Regions from separate parts of the Homo sapiens genome. Here all the other regions are linked to region 1. Evidence: fine-mapped expression QTL. A gene starts in region 1. Each other region holds a variant in brackets. All regions are shown on one strand. Distances are from middle to middle. Region 1 holds the start of URM1 (ubiquitin related modifier 1). Region 2 has its middle 13 kb from the start of MIR219A2HG. Region 3 has its middle 3.2 kb from the start of MIR219A2HG.

Region 1 (6,202 bases):
CATTTCAGCTGCAAGCCTGCACAGAGCCTCCATTTATTCCCTTCCAAGAGCCTCGTTTTCTCCTGGGTGGGGGGTTGGCACATGCAGCAGCTGGGGTGGGGGAGGGTGACAGGCAAGGGGCTCAGGAGTTGGGGGTCAGAGAAGAGGGATGGGAACTGAAGGCACTGGGACTTAGGCAAACAACCAAGACTGGCCAAACCTGGTGGTGCCAGGCTCAGAGGCCGAGGCTGTTTTTCCCTTTACAAGCGGATGAAGGGAGAACCAGTCTCGCTCAGAGAGTGACCTGTCACTGCTGAATTCACTGGCCCTCAAGGGAGGGGTTGGCATTTCTGCTGTCAGCACATCTGGAGTGGGGGAAGGTGCATGCCCAGCCTCAAGAGTGATTCAGGGAGGCAGACAAGGGGCCTGTTCTAGCCCAGGAGAGACCAAGGCCAGACTCTCTTATGTCTTATAAGATCTGCTATTCAAACTCAACTGACATATCTCCATCTTCCTTCAACCCCCCCAATTCTTGGTGGATGTGTTTGTAGATACCAGTGACAGGTATAGATATTCTCAAAACCACCTTCACCTTTTCTGATGTATCTTCATCTTTTAATCTTCTGTATATACACATACATATACACGTATATATATATTTTGTTTATTTACTTCCTCTCCACCTGCTGGGCTGCAAGCTCTGCCTAAAACAGGGCCTGGCACATGGTAGACACTCAACAAATATCTGCTAAAGGAAAGGAAATGCCCATTTCTCCCAGTTCTTCTCTGACCTCAATGACATTCCCTCCTTTTGCCAATACCTCCCCAACTTGGGAAGGAGGAAGAGGGGTGGGACGGAGAGAACTCCATATCTGGGCCTTTACAACATGGACCACAGGGACACAAAACACAACTATATTACATACTTTGAATCCTGCGTGACCTGAGAAAACGCTCTGCTGAGAACAATTCAGGGGGAAGACAAAGGGTGGCAGACGTGGTCACTGACAAGAAGGAAGGTGTTAGAGGCCTTCCAGAGGGTCTCTGGAGGAGCTGGTGGGGCCAAGAGGACTACATCTGCTCAGGAGGGAGACCCTTCCAGAACTGGAGTGGGAGTGGGGCCACTAAGGGACAAAAGAGAGAAAATGAAGGGCGTGTTAGCCTTTGCAAATTTGCTCCAGTTCTGGATAAGGGTGAATCATGTCTGCTAAGATACATAGGAAATGAAAGAAAGGTCAGGGCAAAAACGTGCATCAACACAAGGACAAAGAGAGAAGGAACCTGGGTTGAGCATCATGTTGGGCATTCCTGAGAATGCTGCAATTTTCATGGAACGCTGTGCTGTGACAGGAGGTGATAGAAGGTGGGTGGGTGGGTGGGTGGGTGGAGGAATGTTGTCCTGCCTTGCCAGGGGTCATTATTGCTCTTGGAGGTAAGGGAGACTGAAGTTAGAGATGATTGGGTCAGAAAAAGGGCAATTGTGCTGGTTTGTAAGCTCTGGAGAGCAATGGCCCCATCTTCCTCACATGACTTCCCCACTGAGCTAGCACAGTACCTAGCAGAGACATTGTTGATAAACAAAGACCATGTCTGACTCATGAGGATGAAAGGCAAGTTGTCTGCAGATAAATCTTCTTTTTTTTTTTTTTGGTAGAGATGAAGTCTCCCCATGTTGCCAAGGCTGGTCTCGAATTCTTGGGCTCAAGCAGTCCTCCTGCCCAAGCCTCCCAAAGTACTAGGATTACAGGCATGAGCCTCCATGCCTGGCCCAGATAAATCTTAACACAGCAGTCTGTGGCTTCTCTCTTTCCAGCTCTGCTGAGGCCTGTCAAGGAAGCAGGGATCCTCCTAGAATCCCAGGCTTTGGGGAGTGTAGCTGGGCCAAGGGTCAGTGAGGCAAAACAGTGAGGAGTCCAGACCAATACAGTTCTAATTGGATCCAAGCAGCCAGACAATATCAATTAAAATGCACTTAGTCATGAGACTTACCCCCCTTCTAAGGGGCAGAAATGCTGAACGCTGTAGGGCACGGACAGACTTCTATTTATCTTTGTATCCTCAGTGTCTGGCTTGCTGCCCGGCACATGGTAGGCACTCAATAAATGGCTGGTGAATGAACTACCCAATTAAGGGAAAACATGAAAGAAATGGGAGGCATCCAATGAGAAGAAAGGCACTGGGCAGAGGTTTTAGATTCCCATCCCAGACTTTTCCTGTCACATAGACCTTGGCTTATCTACACACACACAGGCACACACACACACCTACCTATTCCACACACACACACACACATCCCTACCTATTTCCTCTTTTCCACGTGATACTGTAAAGTACACCACCCATCTTTCAAGGCCTGTTTCTTTGCCTTCTCTCTAAGCTCTGCAGTTTCCCTCAGCTTTGAAACCATATGACAAACCTGTTTGTAGGAAGCACAAATAGTGCCTTGGGTAGACTTCCTCCCTGCTCTGTGTTTCTTCAGTAACTGGTGTGTGTCCCAATCTCTGCATTTTTCATCTTGTGTATACTATACTGTCCCTGTTAGTTCCCTTCAGTGTGATTTCTTATTTGTCCCCGTGTCTCCACCTGACTCCAGTTCTGCAGAAGGCAATCAGCAAGTTTACTGACTGTCCTGAAGGAGGCTCAGGTCTGTTTACCATCCCCAAGTCTTAGGAAAGAAAAAGAAAAAAGTCCCGCCCTGGCCACTACATCCCACGAGAAACAAGACCTTAATAACAGTGTAAAAAGAAACTGCTGCCCAAAGAATGAAATCAGCGGGTGGAGGGTGGTCCTTCTAGGTTCTAGGAGCTCAGATGCCAAACAGATGGGATTGGTCCGAGATAGGAATGGAAAAGAAGAGAGAGAGGCTGCCTGCTAACAGTCACGACCTCCGACTCCGGCGGAGCACAGGGCACCGAGTGGTACACAGAGAGCATTTCCCTCCCAATGTGCGCCTCTATTTCCGGACAGACGGCCTCACTGCCAAGAGAGACTGGCCTCTCAGACTCTCCTAGGCGGGTAGCGTAGCTCACAGCGGGCACTGGGACACCCAGTGATTCGGCCGTGTCAGGCCCCACGGCAGAAGGAAAGGAATTCTGGGCCCGACGACTTCAATCCATCCCCACGGCGCCCCAGCTCTGTGACTCACCCGAACTCCACCTCCACTGACAAGGGCGCAGCCATGTTGAGGAAGCCGAGCTCGCAGGAAACTCCCCTCAACTTCCGGCGCGCCCGCAAATTTCCGGGCGTCTCCGGGTGCCGCGGACGGAAGAGGCGGTGCCCAGGGATCCAGCTTCGTCAGCTGTTGGAGGAAGTCATCGAGGGGAGGGGAGGGGAGGGGAGGGCAGCGGAGGGAAAGGGGTGGCAGAGGGACTATCACCGGCGCTGTTGGGGCTGTGAATCGGTCTCCTTCCGTCTTTCACCGACTGGGCTCAGAGACCCAGGGTGGGAAGCGCCTTGTACGGGACCACAAGCAGGCGGAGGAGAGCCCCCAGGTTTTTTGCGACGTGACCGTGAGCCACGTAGCTGCTTATCTTGCATGAGTTAGAATCTCTTCAGTCTACACACCGCTTGGGCCAGCCCATCTACTCGTCTGGTTGGAATTATAAATGACTCCCAGATCTTTATTTCCGACCCAGAATCTCTCCTGAGCGGGCGACTCGCTATCCAGCCGCCCCCTTTGCTGTCGATTTGGAAGTCACTCGTTCAACAGCTGTTCATTGCGCCTCCCTGTGCCAGGCATTTTGATCGGTGCTAGTGGTAAAGGGGATGGGCAAGGTTCCTGCCTTTAGGGCACTCACAGTCTAGCGGGGAGACTAACTGTAATCAAATAAGCATACTAAGACATGTACAACCTCAAACTTAAATAAAGGAACTGAAGTTATAGGAACTTCAAAAAGAAAACTGAGTAGACTGGACTTGCTGGGCTCTAAAACCTGAGTAAACTAGGTGGCTGTGAGGGGAGAGAAACCTCTAGGAGCATTCCAGTGAGGAGGACAAAAGGCCCAGAGGCTCTGGGTGAGAACATGCTGGAACATGGAGAGGAAGGTGGAAGTTAGGGAGCCTGACTTTCATCCATCTAGAGAGGGAGCTGCAAAGGTGCTCAGGGGCCAACCCCTGCCTTGTAAGCAGGTAAACATTTCAGTCTCTAGGAGCAGTGGGAGACTACTGAAGGGTTTTGGGAGACAGTGACATTTTAGAATTGTGTTTTAAAATATAATTTCTGGCTGCAATATGGAGAATGATTTGAGGGGAATAAGGAAAGAGACACGGAGACCACTGGAGCCTGTTGCAAAAGCTCAGGGCAGGCCGGGCGCGGCGGCTCAGGGCAGGCCGGGCGCGGCGGCTCACGCCTGTCATCCCAGCAATTTGGGAGGCCGAGGCAGGCGGATCACGAGGTCAAGAGATCAAGACCATCCTGGCCAACATGGCAAAACCCTGTCTTTACTAAAAAAATACAAAAATTAGCTGGATGTGGTGGCGTGCGCCTGTAGTCCCAGCTACTCGGGAGGCTGAGGCAGAAGAATCGCTGGAACCCGGGAGGTGGAGGTTGCAGTGAGCTGACATCGAGCCACTGCACTCCAGCCTGGTGACAGAGCAAGACTCTGTCTCAAAAAAAAAAAAAAGCCCAGGGCAGAAATGGAATGAAGTTGGCCAGGCACAGTGGCTTATGCCTGTAATCCTAGCACTTCGAGAGGCCACGATGGGCGGATCACGAGGTCAGGAGTTCAAGACCAGTCTAGCCAACATGGTGAAACCCTGTCTCTACTAAAAATACAAAAATTAGCCAGGCATGGTGGCAGTCTCCTGTAATCCCAACTACTCTGGAGGCAGAGGCAGGAGAATCCCTTGAACCCAGGAAGCAGCAGAGGTTGCAGTGAGCCGAGATCGTGCCACTGGACTCCAGCCTGGGCGACAGAGTGAGACGCTAAAAAAAAGAAATGGAATGAAGTAGACGGCCTATGGGTATCTAAACACCAACACTTCCAAAACTGAACTCAGCATTGGTAGAGGATGATGGTGTAGCCTAGTGGTTAAGGGCAGAATGATGTAATAGTTAAGATCTAGGAGTTCAGGTGGAATGGGTGTGGCGACTCACACCTGTAATCCCAATGCTTTGGGAGGCCAAGGCAAGAGGACTGCTTCTGGCTGGGAGTTTGAGACCAGCCTGGGCAACACAGCAAGTCCCTATGTCTGTAAATGTTTCTTCAAAAATCAGCCAGGCATGGTGGAGTGTGCCTGTCCCAGCTACTCAGGAGGCTGTGAGGGGAGGATCACCTGAGCCTGGAGGTCAAGGCTGCAGTGAGCCGTGATCATGCTATTGCATTCAGCCTGCATGACAGAGTGAGACTCCGGAGTGCAATGGCATGATCACAGCTCACTGTAATCTTGAGCTGCTGGACTCAAGGGAACCTCCTGCCTCAGCCTCTAGAGTAGCTGAGACCACAGGCACTGATAAAGTCCTTCCTTCCTTCTAGTCCACCATGCCCGGCTAATTTTTAAAATTTTTTTGTAGAGACATGTTTTCACCATGTTGCCCAGGCTACTCTCAAACTCCTGGGCTCAAGCAGTCTGCCTGTCTTGGCCTCCCAAAGTGCTGGGATTACAGGTGTGAGGCACCACACTGGGCCAAAAAAAAATTGTTTTGTTTTTGAGACAGATTCTTGCTCTGTCACCCAGGCTGGAGTGCAGTGGCATGACCTCGGCTCACTGCAATCTCTGCCTGCCAGGTTCAAGAGAGTCTTCTGCCTCAGCTTCCCGAGTATCTGGGACTACAGGCTTGCGCCATCATCCTGGCTAATTTTTGTACTTTTAGTAGAGATGGGGTTTCACCATATTGGCCAGGCTGGTCTCGAACTCCTGACCTGGTGATCTGCCCGCCTTGGCCTCCCAAAGTGCTGAGATTACAGGTGTGAGCCACTGCACCTGGCTTGGCCAAAGAATTTTTAATTTAAAAAAAATTTTTTTTGTAAAGATCTAGGAGTACAACTACCAGCTTTATATGCAGGCCCTGGCCAGGCACAGTGGCTCACGCCTGTAATCCCAGCATTTTGGGAGGCCAAGGTGGATGGATTGCTTGAGGCCAGGAGTTCAGAACCAGCCTGGGCAACATGATGAAACCCCATCTCTACCAAAAGCCAGGCATGGTGGCACACACCTGTAGTCCCAGCTACTCAGGAGGCTGAGGCACAAGCTGGGAGGCGGAGGTTACACTACTGCACTCCAG
Region 2 (7,547 bases), 35 kb before region 1:
TTTTGAACTCCTGACCTCAAGTGATCTGCCCGCCTTGGCCTCCCAAAATGCTGGGATTATAGGTGTGAGCCACCATGCCTGGCCAGTTGGGAATATTTTTATTTTACAGAAGAGGAAACCTTGAAACTGAGGCACGGAGAATCTAAATAAATCACTTGCCAAGCTCATCCAGAGTTGGGGTTTGGGGTTTGAAACCAAGTCTGCCTGTCTCACTCTGGCCAGCCCTGGTGACTCTGGAACTGCTGTTGGTGTTACTGTTTAAGTTCCCTGGAGCTTTTTGCCCCAGGCTTTCTCTCCCTGTCCTCAGTCGCCCCACCTGTGGAATGGGGACACTCTATGCATGGAGTAAACACCACCAGTTCTGAGTCTGGAGCTGTGTCAGGTTCTGTGCTCGATTCTTTCCAAGTATTTATTAGCGAATTACTCCTCCTGGTGGCTACGGTCGGCCTGGGCTAGAATCCCAGCTCTGCTGCCTCCAGACTGCCTGGCTTTGGGCAAGTGACTGGACCTCTCAAGAGTCTAGCAGTCTCCAAAGCTGCAAAATGGAGACAGGAAAAACGCCTCTGCATCTTTGATTTTGTTATGGAAAGGATGAGATGACGCAGATGAAGTGATTAGCCCAGGACCTGACCCAGAGGTAGTGGGTGGGAAATGCTGCCTGTTACTCTTCTATTTAACCACAATGGTCAAGGGCAGGATCCAAGTGGCCCATGCACCACCGCGTGCCCCCATGCTCAGCTCAGAGCTGGTACGTAGGAGGGCTCCATCATTACCTGTGAATGAACCTGGTCCGTGGTCCCCACATGGGGAAAGCAGGCTGGGAGAGGGCCACACCTGTCCAAGATCACACAGTTACCGGGTGGAGCTGGATTCAGCCCCGTCCGTGAGTCTGCCAAGGTCCCCTGCTCTGACTCCTGTACCCCTAGGGCCTTCTCTCTCGAGGCCAGAACCTGGAGTAGGGAGGGGACAGGGGAACAGGGACAATCTCAGGGCTAAGACAACCCAGAAGGTGACTTGGCTGTGGCTGGGTGGGATCTCAGGGTCTGGGAACGACCCCTCAGGATGCAGTGACCCGTGCTCTCCCTTTTTGTCCTCTCCCCCCTGCCCACCATGGGTCAGTTCCCTGGTCCCAGCCTAGACATCTGGAACTGGGGCAGACAAAGGGCTGCGGGAAGGGACAATAACCTTCTGTCCATTTTCAGATGTCGGGCCGCGCCTGGCCAGGGCTGGGGGCCGGAGCCCCGGCGAGGCGGTGCCAGGCCCCCCGCGGGCAGCGGACAATGTTGGCAGTGATGGAGAGGAGGCATTTCAAAGCGTTTTGTTCCCGCTGACCCCCTCCCCCCAACATCTCGCCCCAGCTCGGGGCGAGGCCCCATCCCCACCCCCAGCCACCCAGGCCTCTGCTCTGGGCGGCTTGGGGACCAGCCACATTCTTGACCTCAGGGGAAAAGTTTAGACTCTTTGCGCCCTGGGCAACAATAACAGTGTCACAGAACTGATTTAGGAGCAGCACTTACCATCACAAAGCAGCAGACAAAGAGCCGGGCTGAGAACGCGCCGGGCCGCTGCGACTACTCCACCAACCGCGGCTCACTTCTCTCCAGGCTCTGCCAGGCAGGACTGGGTGCCAGGCCCCACACCCTAGGCACACCAGGGGAGGACTTGAGGTGGGCAGTCATCAAGAAGAGACAGGGGAAACCAACCGGGAATGTGGAGGACTGAGAGCTAGTTCCTGCTCCACCACCAATTTGCTACGTGACCCTGAGCAAGTCCTTCCCCACTGTGGGCCTCAGTTTCCCTATCTGTAGTAAGAAGGCTAAACTATAAGGCCAAAAGCACGAGGCTCTGATCTTGCAGGTAGAAGAGTTTCAATGAGGATGATGACAGTGGTGATGGTGGTGCTGCCAAGCCCCCCTCCTCCAACTCCTTTACCCCTAGGGCCTTCTTTCTTGAGGCCAGAACCCGGACTAGGGAGGGGACAGGGGAACAGGGACAATCCCATGGCTAAGTAAGACAACCCAGAAGGTGACTTGGCTGTGGCTGGGTGGGATCTCAGGGTCTGGGAACGACCCCTCAGGATGCAGTGAGAAGTATTTGCCACTTGGTCCTGTGCACTTCAGAGGTGCCAGGCACTGTGCTCACTAAGCCCTTTCAGACCTTCATACCCTTTTATCATGTAAACTTTTTCAGACTCACAAAGCAGATGTATAATTAGCTCCACTTTACACTTGATAAGCTAAGGCTCAGAGAAGTTCAGTCATTTGTCCAACGCCACACAGCCTGGAGGTTGTGGAGCCAATACTCAAGGCGGAGCCGCTTCCTTCCTGAAATTATACTCCAGTGGGAAGGAGAGAGGAACAACGAGGCAGCTGGACATGGTGAGTTCTGGCTGGGAGGGTCTTCCCTCCCTGCCAGAAGGCTATGAATAAAGAAATGTCTGCTTATCCCCAGGGGAAATTCCATCCTTGGAGCAGGTGCCTTTATTTATTTATTTATTTATTTATTTATTTATTTATTTTTTGAGACAGAATCTCGCTCTGTCACCCAGGCTGGAGTGCAGTGGCGCGAACTTGGCTCACTGCAACCTCCACCTCCCGGGTTCAAGCGATTCTCCTGCCTCAGCCTCCCGAGTAGCTGGGACTACAGGCACCCGCCACTACGCCTGGCTAATTTTTGTATTTTTAGTAGAGATGGAGTTTCACCATATTGGCCAGGCTGGTCTCTCAACTCCTGACCTTGTGATCAGCCCTCCTTGGCCTCCCAAAGTGCTGGGATTACAGGCGTGAACCACTGTGCCCAGCTGCAGTTGCCTTTAAAAACGAGGTTGGACAAGCACTTTGGGAGGCTCCCGCCTGTAATCCCAGCACTTTGGGAGGCTGAGGCAGGTGGATCACTTAAGCCCAGGAGCTCAAGACCAGCCTGGGCAACATGGCAAAACTCCATCTCTACAAAAAATACAAAAATCAGCCAAGCATGGTGGCCATTCACTCCAGCCTGGGCGACAGGGTGAGACTGTGTCTCAAAAAATAAAAATAAAGTTTATTTAAAAAAAAGCTTGATTGATTTTTATCTGTGAACAGAGGTGGGCCTGGGTAGACATCCAGATGCAGGGGATTGAATGCAATGACCTCCAGCGGAGGCCTCCTAGGAATCAGAGGCACTATGGAAGAACGTTTAAGGGATTGGGCTCTGCAGCCAAGCTATGGGCTTGAATCCCAGCTCTTTTTCTCGCAGTGTGTCCACAGATGAGTCACTTCAATGCTCCGTGTCTCAGTTTTCCAATCTGTAAAACTGACTCCACACTGCAGGAATGTGGTGACCACC[A/G]TTCAGCAAGGTACGTGGACGACCTCAGAACAGAGCCTGACCCAGTGAGGAATGCCTGTTTCTACTCGGCAGGGTCCCCCCAGCCAGGTCCCACCTCAAAGCAGGAACCACTGGGGTGCTGTGGTATGCAGTCAGCTGTTGACCTTGCTTTTTGGGAAGTGGTTGGGCTTTAAAGACAACATGAGGGACTATGGTTAGACACCAAGAACAAAGACGCCATTCTCTGGGGGATGTAAGGCAAAAGCCAACCACGGCTTCCCAGGGATAGTCAGAGGAGATTGTGGCGCTCTGAGGCCCAGGCAGGGGCTGCTCCTGCTACTAGGCTGGGCCCTGGGCATGGTGCCTGGAGAGACAACAGAAAGGAAAGGCCTGGAGGTGCTAGGCAGAGTCGGCTCCCTCCACCCCTCAGCCTCTTAAATTCAGGGGGAAACTGCATGTGGAGAGGGAAAGAGAGAGGTGGTCAAAGATGGCTTCCATAACACAAACAGCCTGCGGTGTGATGAGGGGGCCTGGTGGGTTTGAGTACCAGCAGTTTGCTGTGTCACCCGGGATGAACTGCTAACTCTCTCTGAGCTCATTCCAAAGGTCTTTTAGAATCCAAAGTGTTAAAAGGAAACCATTACAGCAGCCTCTGTGATTTCACAAATCTAATCAGAAAGTTGGCTAGGCTGGGTGCGGTAGCTCAGGCCTGTAATCACAGCATTTAGGGAGGCTGAGGTGGGAGGATTGCTTGAGCCCAGGAGTTCAAGACCAGCCTGGGCAACATAGTGAGACCTTATCTTTTTTTTTTTTTTTTTAATATAAAGATATATTCCATGCAAGAGAGACCTCATCTTTTAAAACAGAAATTTAAAAATCATACAAATAAAAATAAAACACAAAAACCTGGCTGGGAATCCAGGAGTCCTATACCCTAGACTCCAGCCCCTCCTACCTCCTCACATTCCCAGCCCTCTCCTCCAGCTTCTCTAACCATCCCTTCAGCTCCCCTCACCAAACCATCAGTGACACACGAGTCCCAGACAGAGGGTGAGACAGTCACAACAGAAAAGGCCACAGAACCATGAGGACTCACGGAGATTGTGGGGGTCTTGGGGAGCCCCGACATGGACAACCTCTCCCTCCCTCACTGCCTGGCTGTGGGGCCAGAGGAGCACTCACCCGGGCAGAGCCTCTTGGGGGTACTCCTCAGCCCAGGAGGTGGATGGCACTGCTGGGGCGTCTCTGGCATAAGGTGACTCCCACCCAGCTCCTGCTGCTGAGAAGGACTGGTCAGGCGGGGCCCTCAGGTGCCAGACCGCCCTTCCCGGGCACAGATTTTCCTGGCATCTGCTGGGCAGGAAGGGCACTGGCTGGGGGTTGGGCAGAGGAGCAGGGAAAGATTTGAGCAAAGACGTCTCCCAGAGGGCTTCCCCCTAAACCTTCACCCCACTCTCCTTCTGGACACTGTAGGCCAAAGGTCCAGGAAGACAGGGAGCCTCAGGAGTGGGGAGAGGTCTGATCAAGGAGGCTGAGAGGAGCCCAGGCCCCTGCCCCCCGACCGCTCCCATCCACTGCCAGCAGGGCCCACACGGAGGTGTTTGCTTTTCCTGCCTCTACACTGACTCCATTCAGAGCAGCCGATCCCCACCCCCGGCCAACGACCAGAAAGTCAGGGCACCAGGGAGTGAGATCACGGCCCCCACCTCCCCCTCCACAACCCTTCCTGCCCTCTTCACTGCAGGAGATACCTCAGCCACAAGGGCTTCCTAGTTTCATGGACGACTGGGGCGTGGGGGGCTGGCAGGAGGAGAGAAAGAGGGAAACCAAGTCGAGAAGAGGGTGGTGGGAAGTATCTGAGGAGAGGGACGCAAAGGGACACGGACGATAGGGCTCCTGATGGAGGCGGCCCAGGCAGAGATGGGGCAGGGACAGGATGGGGGAGCCACAGAGCAGAGGACTGTCTAGGAGGCAGGCAGGGCCGTCACTAACCAGTCCAGGGCCTCACAGCCTGGCTCTGCACCGGTCACGGCCAGCAGGGCCCGGAGTGGACACTGAGGATGGGAGCTCCTGGCGCCCACCTGGAAACCAGCCTCCTTCTCATCCCCGGAACAAGGGCCCAGGCAGAGCTGTGACCTGGTCTGTGGCCAGGGGAAGGAGGAGGGTGAAAAGTTTCCCCAAGTCAGAAGGCCATGGGGGAGGCATCTCAGGGGGTCCTGCTCTTTGCTGTCTCTGACTGTCACATTGGTACATAAAGGGGGTAGAAAGGTCAGATGCGGCCTTTCAGGCCCGTGGGAAAAACTCAGCCCATTTCCCTAATCCATATTTATTGGTGTGAGACACTGGGGTGGGAGGAAGCCCGCTGCCCCCACCCGCCGCCCCAGCCAGGCCAGGTTAGCACTAAGAACAGGCTCCATGTCACCCAAATCCTACTCTTTGTCTCCAGATTGGCTCCAGAATCCTCCCCCATCCCTCCTCCCCTTGGTCCCCCCCACCCAACCCCCCTCGGGGTTGCCAAGCAACCATGGAAGGGTAGCTGAGATATTTTCTTTATTACAAGCAAAAGCAAGACAGCATCATGGCCCCAGGAGGGGAGCAGGGTGGGGGCTGGGGGAGAGGGTGTCCTGTGCTCTGGGGGGACTCAGCCACCTCCACTTGTTCTGAGCGTGAGCAGTGGGGAGACAGGGCCCCAGAGCCCAAGAGAAGGAGGGAGATGGAAGAGAGTGTTGGTGAAGGGGTGGGTGGAGTGTGCAGACACTGGTCCACTCTACACAATGCTAAAAGATGGGGTGGTGCCATGAGACCCAGGCCTGAGTCTCTCACCTGCCACCCACCAGCTGTGCCATCTGCACCCAAGTCACTTCCCTTCTCTGGGCCTGTTTCCTCCTTGATAAAATGGGAATAATAATATGTATTATCTCATTTAATCCTCACAAAAGACCCAGGAGATGTTTATTTTTCCTATTTTATTGGTTAAGGAAGCTGAGGTTGGGAGGTATGAAGTCATGTGCCAAGCAGGTAAGTGGCAGAGGTGGGATTCCTGAGCCCCATCCCTCTCTTTTTATCTTTTTTTTTTTTTTTTTGAGATGGAGTCTTGCTCTGTCACCCAGGCTGGAGTGCAGTGGCAGAGTGGCGGGATCTTGGCTCATTGCAACCTCCGCCTCCCGGGTTCACGCCATTCTCCTGCCTCAGCCTCCGGAGTAGCTGGGACTACAGGTGCCCACCACCATGCCCAGCTAATTGTTTGTATTTTTAGTAGAGATGGGATTTCACCGTGTTAGCCAGGATGGTGTCGATCTCCTGACCTCATGATCCACCCGCTTCGGCCAGTGCTGGGATTACAGGTGTGAGCCGCTTCGGCCAGTGCTAGGATTACAGGTGTGAGCCACTGTGCCCGGCCTCTTTTTTTTTCATAACAGCATTGTTGAGATGTAATTCACATGCCATGCAATTTGCCTACTTAAAGTGTATCATTCAACAGCTTTTAGTATATTCAAGAATTGTGCAACCATCACAACAAGCCATTTTATATTTTCATTATTTTGAAAAGAAAGCCCATACTCAGGCTGGGCGTGGTGGCTCACACCTGTAATCCCAGCACTTTGGGAGGTCAAGGTGGGCTGATCACCTGAGGTCAAGAGTTCAAGATCAGCCTGGGCAACATGGTGAAACTACATCTCTACTAGAAAAATACAAAAATTAGCAGGGCGTGGTGGTGGGCACTTGTAATCCCAGCTACTCGGGAGGTTGAGGCAAGGAGAATTGCTTGAACCCAGGAGACGGAGGTTGCAGTGAGCTGAGATCGCACCACTGCACTCCAGCCTGCATGACAGAGTGAGACTCCATCTCAAAAAAAGAAAGAAAGAAAGAAAGCCCATACTCATTAGCCATCATTCCCCATTTCTCCCCAACTGCCCTTCTCCCCAGCCCTAGGCAACCACTAATCTGCTTTCTGTCTCAATAGATTTGCCTATTCTGGATATTTCATGTAAATGGAATTATACAGTATGTCTAAGTCCCAATTATTATTATTTTTTAGACATGGTTTCTCTCTGTCACCCAGGCTGGAGTGCAGTGGCACACTCATGGCTCACTGCAGCCTCAACCTCCTAGACTCAAGTGATCCTTCTGCCTCAGCCTCCCAAGCAGCTGGGACTACAGGCACCCATCACCATGCCCAGCTAATTTTTTTTTTTTGCAGAGATGGGTTCCCACTATGTTGTCCAGGATGGTCTTGAACTCTC
Region 3 (5,000 bases), 25 kb before region 1:
TAAAAATACAAAAATTAGCTGGGCATGGTGGCACACACCTATAGTCCCAGCTACTTGAGAGGCTGAGGCATGAGAATTGCTTGAATCTGGGAGGCAGGGGTTGCAGTGAATGGAGATTGTGCCACTGCACTCCAGACTGCGTGACAGAGTGAGACTCCACTTCAAAAAAAAAAAAAAAAAGCCGGGTGCGGTGGCTCACGCCTGTAATCCCAGCACTTTGGGAGGCTGAGGCGGGTGGATCATGAGGTCAAGAGATTGAGACCATCCTGGTCTCAACCCACCTCTACTAAAAATACAAAATTTAGCTGAGTGTGGTGGCACGTGCCTGTAGTCCCAGCTACTTGGGAGGCTGATGCAGGAGAATTGCTTGAACCCGGGAAGTGGAGGTTGCAGTGAGCCGATATCACGCCACTGCACTCCAGCCTGGATGACAGACCGAGACTCCGTCTCAAAAAAAAAAAAAAAAAAAGCCAGTCCTGGTGGGAAGGAAGGGCTTGCTTAACTGGCAGTGTGGACAACTCTGCCGTCTTCTTTTTTAATTTTTTTTTTTTTGAGACGGAGTCTTGCTCTGTTGCCCAGGCTGGAGTGCAGTGGCGTGACCTCGGCTCACTGCAAGCTCCGTCTCCCGGGTTCACGCCATTCTCCTGTCTCACCCTCCCGAGTAGCTGGGACTACAGGCACTCGCCACCACGCCCGGCTAATTTTTTTGTATTTTTAGTAGAGATGAGGTTTCACCGTGTTAGCCAGGATGGTCTCGATCTCCTGACCTTGTGATCCACCCATCTCGGCCTCCCAAAGTGCTGGGATTACAGGCGTGAGCCACAGCGCCTGGTCTTCTTTTTTAATTTTTTTGTTGAGACAAGGTCTCACTCTGTCACCCAGGCCAGAGTGCACTGGTGGGATCTCAGCTCACTGCAACCTCCGCCTCCTGGGTTCAAACAATTCTGCCTCAGCCTCCTGAGTAGCTGGAATTACAGGCACCTGCCACCACGCTCGACTAATTATAGTATTTTTAGTAGAAACGGGGTTTCACCATGTTGGCCAGGCTGGTCTCAAACTCCTGACCTCAGGTGATCCGCCCGTCTCAGCCTCCCAAACTGCTGGGATTACAGGTGTGAGCCACTGCATCCTGCTGACTCTGCCATCTTCCTGAGAGTTGGTTGTGTGTGTGTGCTGTGTGTGTGTGCGCATGCACACCCGGGGTGTATGGTGGTGATGGTGGAAGCTCATGATGACACATTACTTAACTGCAAGCACATGCAGAGGGTGTTTGGATCCTCCTAACACCCACCCATTTCTAGAGAGGCAGGACAGGCACGATGGATAGGCACAGAGGCTGTCACTAAGATTCAGCCTCCTGGAATCACTTGTCCTGGAAGCCCAAGGCAATGCTGGCTCTTCCTGAAGTCTTCCCACAGCTTCCCTGTTGGAATGAATCTCTGTCTTCTATAATCCCCAGAACCTTGCTAATTCTTCAGCTACCGTGCTTTCCCGGGGCTCTGCTTTCATTAGAGTTGGCTGGGTATTTGTGTCTGTTGGTCCACTTGGATACCGGGTACTTCCGGGGGGCAATGACACTATTTGCCTTTCTCCCTTCCCCTACCTTCAGCGCACACACAGTGCTTTGCAAACATCGGTCCACTAAGCGTTGCTCATGGAGAATCACTCAGATAGACCGTCAAGAACACGGCTCCAGAGCCTGCTCTGCCACCGCTGGCCCTCACCTGGCTCAGTAGCCTAACTGGTCTCTGGTCATCAAACTTGCCCTATCCCCCCATCCCCCCTCCCCCTATTCTCCACACTTCAGTCCCAGCAAACCTTTAAAAATGTAAATCTGAACTTGTCAGACCTTTCAGGATCCCCACCGCGTTTAGGATATAATCGCAAATCCTCCCAATAGCCTAAGAGCCTGGCAAGGTCGACCTCAGCTTTATGTGGAACTTCCCCTTCCTCACTGCGCTCCAGCCACACCAAATTTCCTTCCTTCTCTGAGCTCGCCAAGTACTTCTTTAGAGCACGCTGTTCCCTCCGCCTGGGACAGTGCCCGCCTTCACCTAACTCCCCACTCCTCCTCCCCCAGGATCTGCCTCTGTCCCACACTGTGCGTCTCCTCTGGGGACATCTGTCCTCTGCCGAGTCCTGGGCGAGCACACAGTAGGCATTCCATCAATATCTGTTCAGTGGCTGCAGTTAGCAGCCTTCTTGGCTCCTCATTTCCCTGAGGGTGCGGGTGAGGGCAACTCACTTCTCTGCCCAGTACTGATGGGCTTTAAATACCTCAGTTGGGCATGGTGGAACATTCCTGTCAAATTTCAGCTACTCGGGAGGCTGAGGTGAAAGGATCCCTTGAGCCCAGGATTTCGAGAACCAGCCTGGGCAACATAGGGAGATACCCGTTTCAAAAAAAAAAAAAAATTGGCTGTCTGGCCGGGTGCGGTGGCTCACACCTGTAATCCCAGCACTTTGGGAGGCCGAGACGGGCGGATCATGAGGTCAGGAGATCGAAACCATCCTGGCTAACACGGTGAAACCCCGCCTCTACTAAAAATACAAAAAATTAGCCAGGCGTGGTGGTGGGCGCTTGTAGTCCCAGCTACTCGGGAGGCCGAGGCAGGAGAATGGCATGAACCTGGGAGGGGGAGCTTGCAATGAGCCGAG[A/G]TCGCGCCACTGCACTCCAGCCTGGGGGACAGAGCGAGATTCCATCTCAAAGAAAAAAAAGAAATTGGCTCTAATGTACCCTGGGGACAGAAAAGCCCTTCTCCTAGAAGGCAGCTAGGACCTAGCTTGGGAGCCCCCAACTCTCTTTTTTTTTTTTTTTGAGACGGAGTCTCGCTCCGTCGCCCAGGCTGGAGTGCAGTGGCACGATCTCGGCTCACTGCAAGCTTCGCCTCCCGGGTTCATGCCATTCTCCTGCCTCGGCCTCCCGAGGAGTAGCTGGGACTACAGGCGCCCACCACCACGCCCGGCTAATTTTTTGTATTTTTAGTAGAGACGGGGTTTCACTGTGTTAGTCAGGATGGTCTCGATCTCCTGACCTCGTGATCCGCCCACCTTGGCCTCCCAAAGTGCTGGGATTACAGGTGTGAACCACTGCACCCGGCCAGCCCCCAACTCTTTTTTAAATTTTTATTTAAAAATCTTTATTTTGGCCAGGTGTGGTGGCTCAGGCCTGTAATCCTGGCACTTTGGGAAGCTGAGGAGGGCGGATCATTTGAGGTCGGGAGTTTGAGACCAGCCTGACCAACATGGTGAAAACCTATCTGTACTAAAATACAAAAATTAGCCAGGCATGGTGGCGGGCACCTGTAATCTCAGCTACTCTGGAGGCTGAGGCAGGAGAATTGCTTGAACGCAGTTGGTGGAGATTGCAGTGAGCCGAGATTGTGCCACTGCACTCCAGCCTGGGCGACAGAGCGAGACTCCCTCTTAAAATAAATAAATAAATAGTTTATTTTTATTTTTGTAGAGATGGGGGTCTCACTTTTTTACCCAGGCTGGTTTTTTTTTTTTTTTTTTTTTTTTTTTTTTGAGACCAAGTCTCTCTGTTGCCCAGGCTGGAGTGCAGTGGCACGATCTAGGCTCACTGCAACCTCCACCTGCCAGGTTAAGTGATTCTCATATCTCAGCCTTCTGTGTAGCTGGGATTACAGGCGCTTGCCGCCACACACGGCTTATCTTTGTGTTTTTAGTAGAGATGGGGTTTTGCCATGTGCCCAGGCTGGTCTTGAACTCCTGGGCTCAAGTGATCCGCCCGCCTCGGCCTCCCAAAGTGCTGAGATTACAGGCATGAGTCACCTCACCTGTCACAGGCTGGTATTTAACTTCAGGCTTCAAGCAATCTTCCTGCCTTGGCCTCCAGCCTCGGCCTCCCAAAGTGTTGGGATTATGGACACCAGCCATGGCACCTGGTAATCAGAGACTATTGTTGCCCAGTCCATCTTGGTTGTGTTCATGCCAGGCTGGGGTGGGCTGGGACTGGATTATAATGTATTAATATAAGGTGACACAGAGTGTCTCCTGGGTCTAGCCGTTTTAAGTGCATTTACATCCATCCCCTCTGTACCCACTAAATAAAGGCTTGGAAACTAGAGTGTGCAGCAAGTCCTAAAGCTCTGGGTTTCTAGATCCCTAGTGGGTGCGGTCTCTGGAGGTTGGGGATTGGGGCTGCATGCCTTCTGTCTTATCCTCCAGCATGGTCTTCTCAGGGAGTGACCCTGTGACCTCCAGAATGCTCCCCCTCCCTCTCCAGCTGGAAGCTCCAGGGAGGAGCCTAAGGAAGGAGGGCTCTGCAGTTTCTTCATCTGTAAAATGGGGCTGATAACAGCACTTACTTTCCAGGGTTGTTGTGAGGAATCAGTGAGCTACTACCTTCAAAGAGCTTAGTGCTTGGCACACAATACACTCTTTGCTGTTATTATTACCAAATGGAGCATTCCCAGGAGTTGGGATCTGGTTAGCAGGACTCCCTCCCTGTAAAACCCGGGCTGCAAGAATTACCTCCCACAAGCAACATTCTTTCAACTTTTATAAGAAACTCCAAGAAGTCTATGTGGCTCATTTTAAAGTCACCGGGCATGCGTGCAACCACCCACAGATATTTAATGATTGGTTGGGGGGAGGGCACTGTACTAGGCCCTGGAGGCACAAAGATCCGTAGGACCCGTTTCCTGTCCTAGGGAGGAGACTCAGACAAACCGATATTCACAATTCAGCCGGGCACGTGGCAAGGCCACCCAGAGATTGTGAGGACAGGAGAGCATTTCAGAGCAAGGCAGCTTGGTGTGCCAGGACAGAGGCAGGGGTATTCTGGGTGCTTGGAGAACTCTGGGGTGAATGGAAGGCAGGCTGTATGGGAAAAATGGCCACACACTCCCACTTTAGGGTGTGAGGTTCATTGGGAAAGACAGGCTGGGCTTTGGGGGTGAGAAGCTGGCTATGTATTTACCCAATAGACTGAGAACCGTCTCTGCCAGACCAGGCTGGGGGTGGGGCTGGGGGCG

Evidence for each region. PIP is the estimated chance that this variant, and not a neighbour inherited with it, causes the effect.
Region 2: its variant is fine-mapped to the expression of URM1 in breast (GTEx, PIP 0.98).
Region 3: its variant is fine-mapped to the expression of URM1 in esophagus mucosa (GTEx, PIP above 0.99). The same link has a PIP of 0.9 or more in sun-exposed skin.

The regions. Positions count from the first base shown.
Region 1 is chr9:128,368,338-128,374,539 of GRCh38, reverse strand. URM1 (ubiquitin related modifier 1) reads right to left here and starts at 3,166. Exons shown (of 5, transcript NM_030914.4): 1 at 3,125-3,166. The coding sequence starts at 3,159. RefSeq lists enhancers at 2,968-3,067, 3,131-3,994, 3,995-4,859.
Region 2 is chr9:128,403,027-128,410,573 of GRCh38, reverse strand. No RefSeq gene overlaps it. Among named protein-coding and RNA genes, the nearest start is that of MIR219A2HG, 13 kb to the right of the region's middle. RefSeq lists an enhancer at 5,017-5,817. The variant A/G (reference allele first, on the strand shown) is at 3,325.
Region 3 is chr9:128,394,223-128,399,222 of GRCh38, reverse strand. No RefSeq gene overlaps it. Among named protein-coding and RNA genes, the nearest start is that of MIR219A2HG, 3.2 kb to the right of the region's middle. The variant A/G (reference allele first, on the strand shown) is at 2,659.